Regions from separate parts of the Homo sapiens genome. Here all the other regions are linked to region 2. Evidence: fine-mapped expression QTL. A gene starts in region 2. Each other region holds a variant in brackets. All regions are shown on one strand. Distances are from middle to middle. Region 1 overlaps FSD1 (fibronectin type III and SPRY domain containing 1). Region 2 holds the start of ANKRD24 (ankyrin repeat domain 24). Region 3 overlaps ANKRD24 (ankyrin repeat domain 24).

What was found.
Region 1: its variant is fine-mapped to the expression of ANKRD24 in atrial appendage (GTEx, PIP 0.99). The same link has a PIP of 0.9 or more in gastroesophageal junction.
Region 3: its variant is fine-mapped to the expression of ANKRD24 in transverse colon (GTEx, PIP above 0.99).

The regions. Positions count from the first base shown.
Region 1 is chr19:4,310,805-4,313,560 of GRCh38, forward strand. FSD1 (fibronectin type III and SPRY domain containing 1) reads left to right here. Exons shown (of 13, transcript NM_024333.3): 7 at 1,038-1,247. Among named protein-coding and RNA genes, the nearest start is that of FSD1, 7.6 kb to the left of the region's middle. The variant T/C (reference allele first, on the strand shown) is at 1,381.
Region 2 is chr19:4,181,468-4,184,223 of GRCh38, forward strand. It overlaps ANKRD24 (ankyrin repeat domain 24), which reads left to right and starts at 1,222. Exons shown (of 22, transcript NM_001393985.1): 1 at 1,222-1,273. SIRT6 (sirtuin 6) reads right to left here and starts at 1,096. Exons shown (of 8, transcript NM_016539.4): 1 at 1,007-1,096. The coding sequence starts at 1,072. RefSeq lists enhancers at 1,070-1,159, 1,230-1,279.
Region 3 is chr19:4,209,009-4,211,764 of GRCh38, forward strand. It overlaps ANKRD24 (ankyrin repeat domain 24), which reads left to right. Exons shown (of 22, transcript NM_001393985.1): 12 at 1,050-1,130; 13 at 1,257-1,364. Among named protein-coding and RNA genes, the nearest start is that of EBI3, 19 kb to the right of the region's middle. The variant G/A (reference allele first, on the strand shown) is at 1,351.

The DNA of each region.
Region 1 (2,756 bases), 130 kb after region 2:
ACTGTGTAGTGACATCCTGGGAAAACTCTGTACCCAGGGGTGGAACTGTGAGAATACCATGTCCTGTGGGGTTGGTTGAGTCCTCATGAGGCCCCGCCCTGGGGTGGAGCCATGAGAAGGTCAAACTCACCAGGTGGGAAAATCCTGTCCCCAGGGGTGGAGCCCTGAGAATAGCACGTCCTGTGGGGGTGGGGTATTCATCAAGTCCCGCCCATGGGTGGAGCCATCAGAAAGCCCCACCCACCAGGGGGTGAGGTCCTGGGAAAACTCTGTCCACAGGGGTGGAGCCCTGAGAATACCATGTCGTTGGGGGAGTGGAGTCCTCCCGAGACCTCCTCCCTGGATAGAGCCACGAGAAGGGCCTGCCCACCACATGGTAGCTCCTGGGAAAACCCTGTTTCCAGGGGTGGAGCCCTGAGAAGGCCACGTCCCCGAGGAGAAATGGACTGAGAACCCAGCCTGTCTATGATGCAGCCCCAAAGAAAGCCGCATCCCTCATTGGCAGAGATTTTGGAATAATTCTGCCTGTAAATGATGGAATCCCAAGAAAGCTCAGCCCTCCCCCAACCCACTGATGGAACCTTAGCGTCTCCATGGCCGGGCGCGGTGACTCACGCCTGGAATCCCAGCACTTTGGGAGGCCGAGGCGGGTGGATCACTTGAGGTCAGGAGTTCAAGACCAGCCTGGCCAACATGGAGAAACCCTGTCTCTACTAAAAATATAAAAAATTAGCCGGGCCATGGTGGCTCACGACTGTAATCCCAGCTACTCAGGAGGCTGAGGCAGGAGAATCGCTTGAACCAGGGAGTCGGAGGTTGCAGTGAGCCAAGATCGTGCCACTGCACTCCAGCCTGGGTGACAAGAGCAAGACTCTGTCTCTAAAAAAAAAAAAGTCTCCACCCTGCCAAACATGGAACCCCTTTGTGGCCATGCCCCCAAAATTGTCCAACATGTGGTTGGGCAGCCCTGCAGCAAGCCCCCTGCCCCCTGAACCAGGCACAGAATCCCGACCCCCTCTCCTTTCCGTCTTGGTCAGTGCCCAGCGCACCCGTGATCGACCTGGCTGAGTCCCTGGTGGCAGATAACTGTGTGACCCTGGTGTGGCGCATGCCGGATGAGGACAGCAAGATTGACCACTACGTGCTGGAGTACCGGCGGACCAACTTCGAGGGCCCGCCCCGCCTCAAGGAGGACCAGCCCTGGATGGTCATCGAGGGCATCCGGCAGACAGAGTACACCCTGACAGGTAAGGGCAGTGTGTGCCAGCTCCGCCCAGCTGTGAACAGCCACCTCTTCCAGCCTCCCGTCTCGCCATCAGTCACTGGGGGCCTTGGGGACGATCCCCAAAGCTCATGGGGTCTGGAAGCAGCCTGGGGAGG[T/C]GGATCAGAAATATGAGACAGTGGCCAGGCGCGGTGGCTCATGCCTGTAATCCCAGCACTTTGGGAGGCTGAAGCGGGTGGATCGCCTGAGGTCAGGAGTTCAAGACCAGCGTGGCCAACATGGTGAAACCCTATCTCTACTAAAAATACAAAAAAATTAGCCGGGCATGGTATCGGGCACCTGTAATCCCAGCTACTCAGGAGGCTAAGGCGGGAGAATTGCTTGAACCCGGAAGGTGGAGATGGCACTGAGCCGAGATCGCGCTATTGCACTCCAGCCTGGGCAACAAAAGCGAAACTCATCTCAAAAAAACAAAAAATAATAATAATGAATATAGGCCGGGCGCGGTAGCTCACGCCTGTAATCCCAGCACTTTGGGAGGCCGAGGCGGGCCGATCACAAGGTCAGGAGATCGAGACCATCCTGGCTAACACGGTGAAATACTGTATCTACTAAAAAAATACAAAAAATTAGCCGGGCGTGGCGGTGTGCACCTGTAGTCCCAGCTGCTCAGGAGGCTGAGGCAGGAGAATGGCGTGAACTCGGGAGGCGGAGCTTGCAGTGAGCCTAGATTGCGCCACTGCACTCCAGCCTGGGCGACAGAGCAAGACTCCGTCTCAAAAAATAAATAAATAAATAAATAAATAAATAAATAATAATAATGAATATATTTTTCCAGACATGGGATCCTGCCATTTCCCTAGGCTGGTCTCCAACCCCTGGCCTCAAGCAGTCCTGCCTCAGCCTCCCAAATAGCTGTGTACTGTCCTCGGAGCAGGGAACAAAGCAGACAATAATCTTTTCCCTCCTAGAGCTGGCGTTCTGGATTCACCCTCCAAGTATTTGGGGTCCTCCTTGGCAGTTACAAGAAATTGAAAGCTGGCCAGGCATGGTGGCTCAAGCCTGTGATACAGCACTTTGGGAGGCTGAGGCAAGAGGATTGCTTGAGGCCAGGAGCTGGAGACCAGCTTGGGTAACAAAGCAAGAGCCCATCTATAAAAAAAAAAAAAATTTAAAGTTACCTGAGCATGGTGGTCCCCGCTACCAAGGGAGGCTAAGGTGGGAGGATTGTTTGAGCCCAAGAATTGGAGGCTGCAGTGAGCCATGACTGCACCACCGCACTCCAGCCTGAGCAACAGAGCGAGACCCTGTCTCTACTAAACAAAGAGAGAAAAATAAAGAAAAAAAAAAACAAAACCCAAGGAATCCACCCAGCTGGTGGAGGTAGGGTCTGAAGGGGGAAAGCCTCCTGGGCCGGGCGTGGTGGCTCACACCTGTACTCCCAGCACTTTGGGAGGCTTAGGCGGGCGGATCTTGAAGTCACGAGATTGAGACCAGCCTGACCAACATGGTGAAACCCTGTCTCTACTAAAAA
Region 2 (2,756 bases):
GTGCTCTATAAATGTTGGTGGAATAAAGTGACTAACAGGCCGGGTATGGTGGCTCACGCCTATAATCCCAGCACTTTGGGAAGCCAAGGTGGGTGGATCACTTGAGATCAAGAGTTCAAGAGCAGACTGGCCAACATGGTGAAACCCCGCCTCTACTAAAAATACAAAAATTAGCCAGGCGTGGTGGCAGGTGCCTGTAGTCTCATCTACTCTACTCAGGAGGCTGAGGCAGGAGAATCGCTTGAACCTAGGAGGCGGAGGTTGCAGTGAGCCGAGATCGCGCCACTGCACTCCAGCCTGGGCGACAGAGAAACTCCATCTCAAAAATATAATAATAATAATAATAAAGTGACTAACAGCAGCAGTGAAGAGTGGGGCTTCTGGACGGGCGCACACCATCAGCGCTCATTAAATGCATGAGTCAGAATGCATGGGCCAGCCTTATGGAATGGGGCCATCTTCACCTCGTTTGCAGAAAGTTTGGAGATGGAGACCCAAAAGGGAAGTGACTTCCCCAAAGTCCCACAGTGCGTGGAGGGGGCAGCCGATCCCTCCACTTCCCCTCTGAGTGGCTGGAGGGATCTTTCTGGCACATTCTGTCCAGTCCCCTCGCCAGGGCAAAACCCTTCCCCATCACCCTCAGGATAAAGTGCCAACTCCCCAGCCTGGCATTTGAGCCCCGTCCTGGCCCGGCTCTGGAAACCTCCCAGGCCTAATCGTTCTCCAGGTGTGTTTATTCCCACCTCCCTTTGCGCCTGTCGTCCCCTCTTCCTGGAACTACATCCCCTCTCTCCCCGATCAGCCCCGACAGGGTGACCACAGAGTTGGGCGTGTTGGCGTCCCCCGGCGCGCAGGGGCGTCACTTCCCGCCCCTTCCTCACTGGGAAGTCCCTCCCATTGTCTAGCCTCAGTGCCCCCTGATATTCCCACAATGCCCCCCTGCCATCCGGCCGCTCCCAGCCCGCGGCCCTGGGGCGCGATGCTCGGGACCCTCAGACGCGCTCACCTCCGGGAGGCCGCACTTGCCCTTGTCCGCGTACGGCGACAGCCCCGCCGCGTAATTCACCGACATCCTCGACTGCCCCACGGGAACAATAAAGTTTCCCTTGTTGAGGCCGCTTCCGCCGGAAGCGGGGCGGGGCGGGGAAGAAGGAGGAACCGCGTTCCAGTCCTGCGCACCCGGCCTCCCACGGCAAGGCGCATGCGCCTCTTGCTGACGCCGCAGGCGACATGTTATCTGCTGTCAGAAGGAAGCCTGCCTCTTTGCATGCAGGTGTTTGCGGGGCTTGGGAAGGGGCTCCCCGATGACCCGGGCGGGAAATTGGGGCGGCCGCCTACGTGAGAGTTCTCCAGTCACCTCTAAAATGCGGGACACAGGCTATCCATGTCCCCACAACCCCTTTTACGGATTAGTAAATTCCGTAAGGACAGAGCCGGACAGCAGGGACCCCAGCCTAAGGGTTTTGAATGCCACGCAGAGTTACCTGAATATCTCATTTGTGTGTGTGTGTGTGTGTGTGTGTGTGTGTGTGACGGAGCCTCGCTCTGTTGCCCAGGCTGGAGTGCAGTGGCGCAATCTCGGTTCACTGCAACCTCCGCCTCTTGGGTTCAAGCGATTCTCCTGCCTCAGCCTCCCTAGTAGCTGGGATTACAGGCGCCCGCCACCACACCCAGCAAATTTTTGTATTTTTTAGTAGAGACGGGGTTTCTCCATGTTGGTCAGGCTGGTCCCGAACTCCTGACCTCAGGTGATCTGACCGCCTCGGCCTCCCAAAGTGCTGGGATTACAGGCGTGAGCCACTGCGTCCGGCCAAGTTATCTGAGTATCATCCAACTGGAGGTTCTGCATTCTGCAGGACAGGTCCTGCTCAAGGTCAATGGGGCTGGTGGCCTGGAGGACTCATTTAAGAATCATGTGTTGAGTACCTACTTTGTACTGGGCACACTGGAGAGCAAAGGTGGTACCATCTATGCCCTGGTGGCTGCGGGTGGACACAAACATGTGACCAGGTAATGGTGACATGGTGTGGTTGGGGTGCAATGGGTGATGCAGAGGGCACAGGGCAGTGAGGGGGCTCACAGGAGGCACCTGACCCAGGCTGGGGGCATCCGGGAGGGCTTCCTGGAGGAGGGGATGTTGCAGCAAAGATCTAAAAAGTGAGTGAGCCGGGCGCAGTGGCTCACACCTGTAATCCCAGCACTTTGGGAGGCCAAGGCAGGTGGATCACCTGAGATTGGGAGTTCGAGACCACCCTGACCAACATGGAGAAACCCCGTCTCTACTAAAAATACAAAATTAGCTGGGTGTGGTGGCCTGTAATCGCAGCTGCTCGGGAGGCTGAGGCAGGAGAATTGCTTGAACCCAGGAGGCGGAGATTGCGGTGAGCCGGAGATCGCGCCATTGCACTCCAGCCTGGGCAACAAGCATGAAACTCCGTCTCAAAAATAAATAAATAAATAAATAAAGAGTGCATGAGTCAGGTAGAGCCGGTTGGGGTGACATGAAGTACAGAAAGAATGTTCCTGGTGGGGGGAACAGCAAGTGCAAAGGCTGAGAAAGAGGAAGAGCATGGCTCCTTCCAGAAACTGAAATCAGTCCAGTGATGATAGGGAAGATCGTGGGTGTCTTCCCGCCAGAGCCAGTTGGCCAACAGGCAGTCCGCTGCCAGCCTGTCTCCTCCCTCGGCTCATCCCCGGCCCCCTGGGGCGGCCGCCTGCTCAGAGCCGATCAGGTGTCAGAGTGGAGCGGCTGGAGC
Region 3 (2,756 bases), 28 kb after region 2:
AATTATGGGGCTGGGGTGGGAGGGCAGTGGGGACTGAGGTTGTTGAGGGTTGGTGTCTTCGGGGAAGGAAGCAGATCTGGCCTCTTCCCCTCTTTCAGTTTTTTTGTGTTTTTTTTCCCCGAGGTGGAGTCTCACTCTGTCGCCCAGGCTGGAGTACAGTGGCTCGATCTTGGCTCACTGCAACCTTCACCCCCTGGGTTCAAGCGATTCTCCTGCCTCAGCCTCCCTAGTAGCTGGGATTACAGGCACCCACCACAACTGGCTAATTTTTGTATTTTTAGTAGAGATGGGGTTTCACCCTGTTGGCCAGGCTGGTCTCAAACTCCTGGCCTCAAGTGACCCACCCGCCTCGGCCTCCCAAAGTGCTGGGATTACAGGCATGAGCCACTGAGCGCGACCCCTCTCCTAGTTTTTTTTTTTTGTTGTTGTTGTTGTTTGTTTGTTTTGTTTATTTTTTGAGAGATGGAGTCTCGCCCTGTCACCCAGGCTGGAGTGCAATGGCGTGATCTTGGCTCACTGCAACCTCTGCCTCCCAGGTTCAAGTGATTCTCCTGCCTCAGTTTCCCTAGTAGCTGGGACTACAGGCGTGCGCCACCATGCCCAGCTAATTTTTTGTATTTTTAGTAGGGTCGGGGTTTCACTCTGTGTTGTCCAGGCTGCTCTCGAACTCCTGACCTCAAGTGATCACCCACCTTGGCCTCCCAAAGTGCTGGGATTACAGGTGTGAGCCACCGCGCTGGCCCCTCTCCCAGTTTTAAAGCATCTCTGTTCCACAGAGGAGTGAAAACGTGTGGGCAATGTGGTCTAGCTGGGGAAAGAACTGAGAGACAGAGAGGAGCAGAGAGTAAAGAGTAAGATCTGGAACTTACAGGGAGTTGGTCTTGTCTGCGCTTTGCTGGGATAAGTAAGCGGCAGGAGGCAGGGGCTGCTGGTTCCATGTTCTCAGGAAGTCAGGCCATGGCTGGGGCTGGCTGGGTTGGTTTACTGTGGGGGAGGCTGGCATGGCCCCCCGATCGGCCCCCTTCACTCTCTCTCCCCTCCCTTCCCAGAACTCTATGTCCAGCCATGGAAAGCAGGGGGCCCCCAAGAAGCGGAAGGCGCCTCCACCTCCCGCCAGCATTCCCATGCCGGTGAGAGATGCTCTGGGCACGGGAGGAGGCATGGGGAGCCCCCAGGCACGGGGAGGGGCTCTGGCTGAGACCTGGGATGGGGCAACCTTAGGCCCCATCTAAAGGCCGTGGTGGGGAGGGGAACAGGATGATCGAGATGCCTATGAGGAGATCGTGAGGCTGCGGCAGGAGAGGGGCCGCCTCCTGCAGAAGATCCGGGGCCTGGAACAGCACAAGGAAC[G/A]GAGGCAGCAGGAGGTTAGGAGGCCTCGGAGATTTGGGCGTGGGCCAGCCTGGGTGGGGTCAATGCAGGCATGAAGATCCCCCTACTTTTCTCCCACCTTCCCTCCTCCATCTCTCTCCCTCCCCACCCTGCTGCAGCCACCTGGGCCTCCTCGCTGTTCCTCCAACTCGCCAGGCGCAGTCCTGCCTCAGGGCCTTTGCACCACCAGTGTCCTCTGCCTGGAATGCTCTAGCGCAGTCCTGCCTCAGGGCCTTTGCACCACCTGTGTCCTCTGCCTGGAATGCTCTAGCCCCAGATGGCCCCACAGCTCTTTACCTCACCTACTTTATGCAGTAGGCTCCTCGCCAAAGACACTTCCCATGCCCACTTCCCATGCCCACTTCCCATGCCCACTTTCTTCAAAATTGTAACATCACCCCCCACCACCCCCCCGGCCAACTCGCTAGTTCACTTTATTTTTTTTTTATTTATTTTTGGTTTTGTTTTGTTTTTGAGACGGAGTCTCGCTCTTGTTGCCCAGGCTAGAATGCAATGGTACGATCTCGGCTTATTGCCACCTCCGCCTCCCGGGTTCAAGCGATTCTCCTGCCTCAGTCTCCCAAGCAGCTGGGATTACAGGCGCCCACCACCACATCCAGCTAGTTTTGTATTTTTAGTAGAGACGGGGTTTCAGCACATTGGCCAGGCTGGTCTCTAACTCCTGACCTCAGGTGATCCTCCCGCCGCGGCCTCCTAAAGTGCTGGGATTGCAGGTGTGAGCCACCGCACCCGGCCTCTTTATCTCCATTTGCATCACTTGCTGCTATTGGGCATGCATCTGTTTTATGTGTGTCCACCCATTTGACTGTGAGCCTGCGAGGGCAGGCATGGCTGATGGTGCCTGGGTCACAGTATGGGCGTCGTCAATATTGATTGGGTGAGTGAATATTCAAGTGAGTGTATGAATGAATGGCCAAAACCAGGTCTGCCCCATAAGAGGCACCCAGTAAAAACTTTCTGGCTGGGCACGGTGGCTCACACCTGTAATCCCAGCACTTTGGGAGGTTGAGGTGGGCAGATCACTTGAGGTCAGGAGTTCGAGACCAGCCTGGCCAACATAGTGAAACCCTGTCTCTACTAAAAATACAAAAAAAAAATTAGCTGGGCATGGTGGCAGGGGCCTGTAATTCCAGCTACTTGGGAGGCTGAGGCAGGAGAATTGCTTGAACCCGGGAGGCAGAGGTTGCAGTGAGCCAAGATCACACCACTGCACTCCAGCCTGGGTGACAGAGCAAGACTCCATCTCAACAACAACAACCACAACAACAACAAACAAAAACAATCTTGTTGAGTGAATGAGTGGATGGAACGGTGCCTGGCATACAGCAGGTGCTTAATAAGTACATAGTAATTGTCCAGAATGGTGC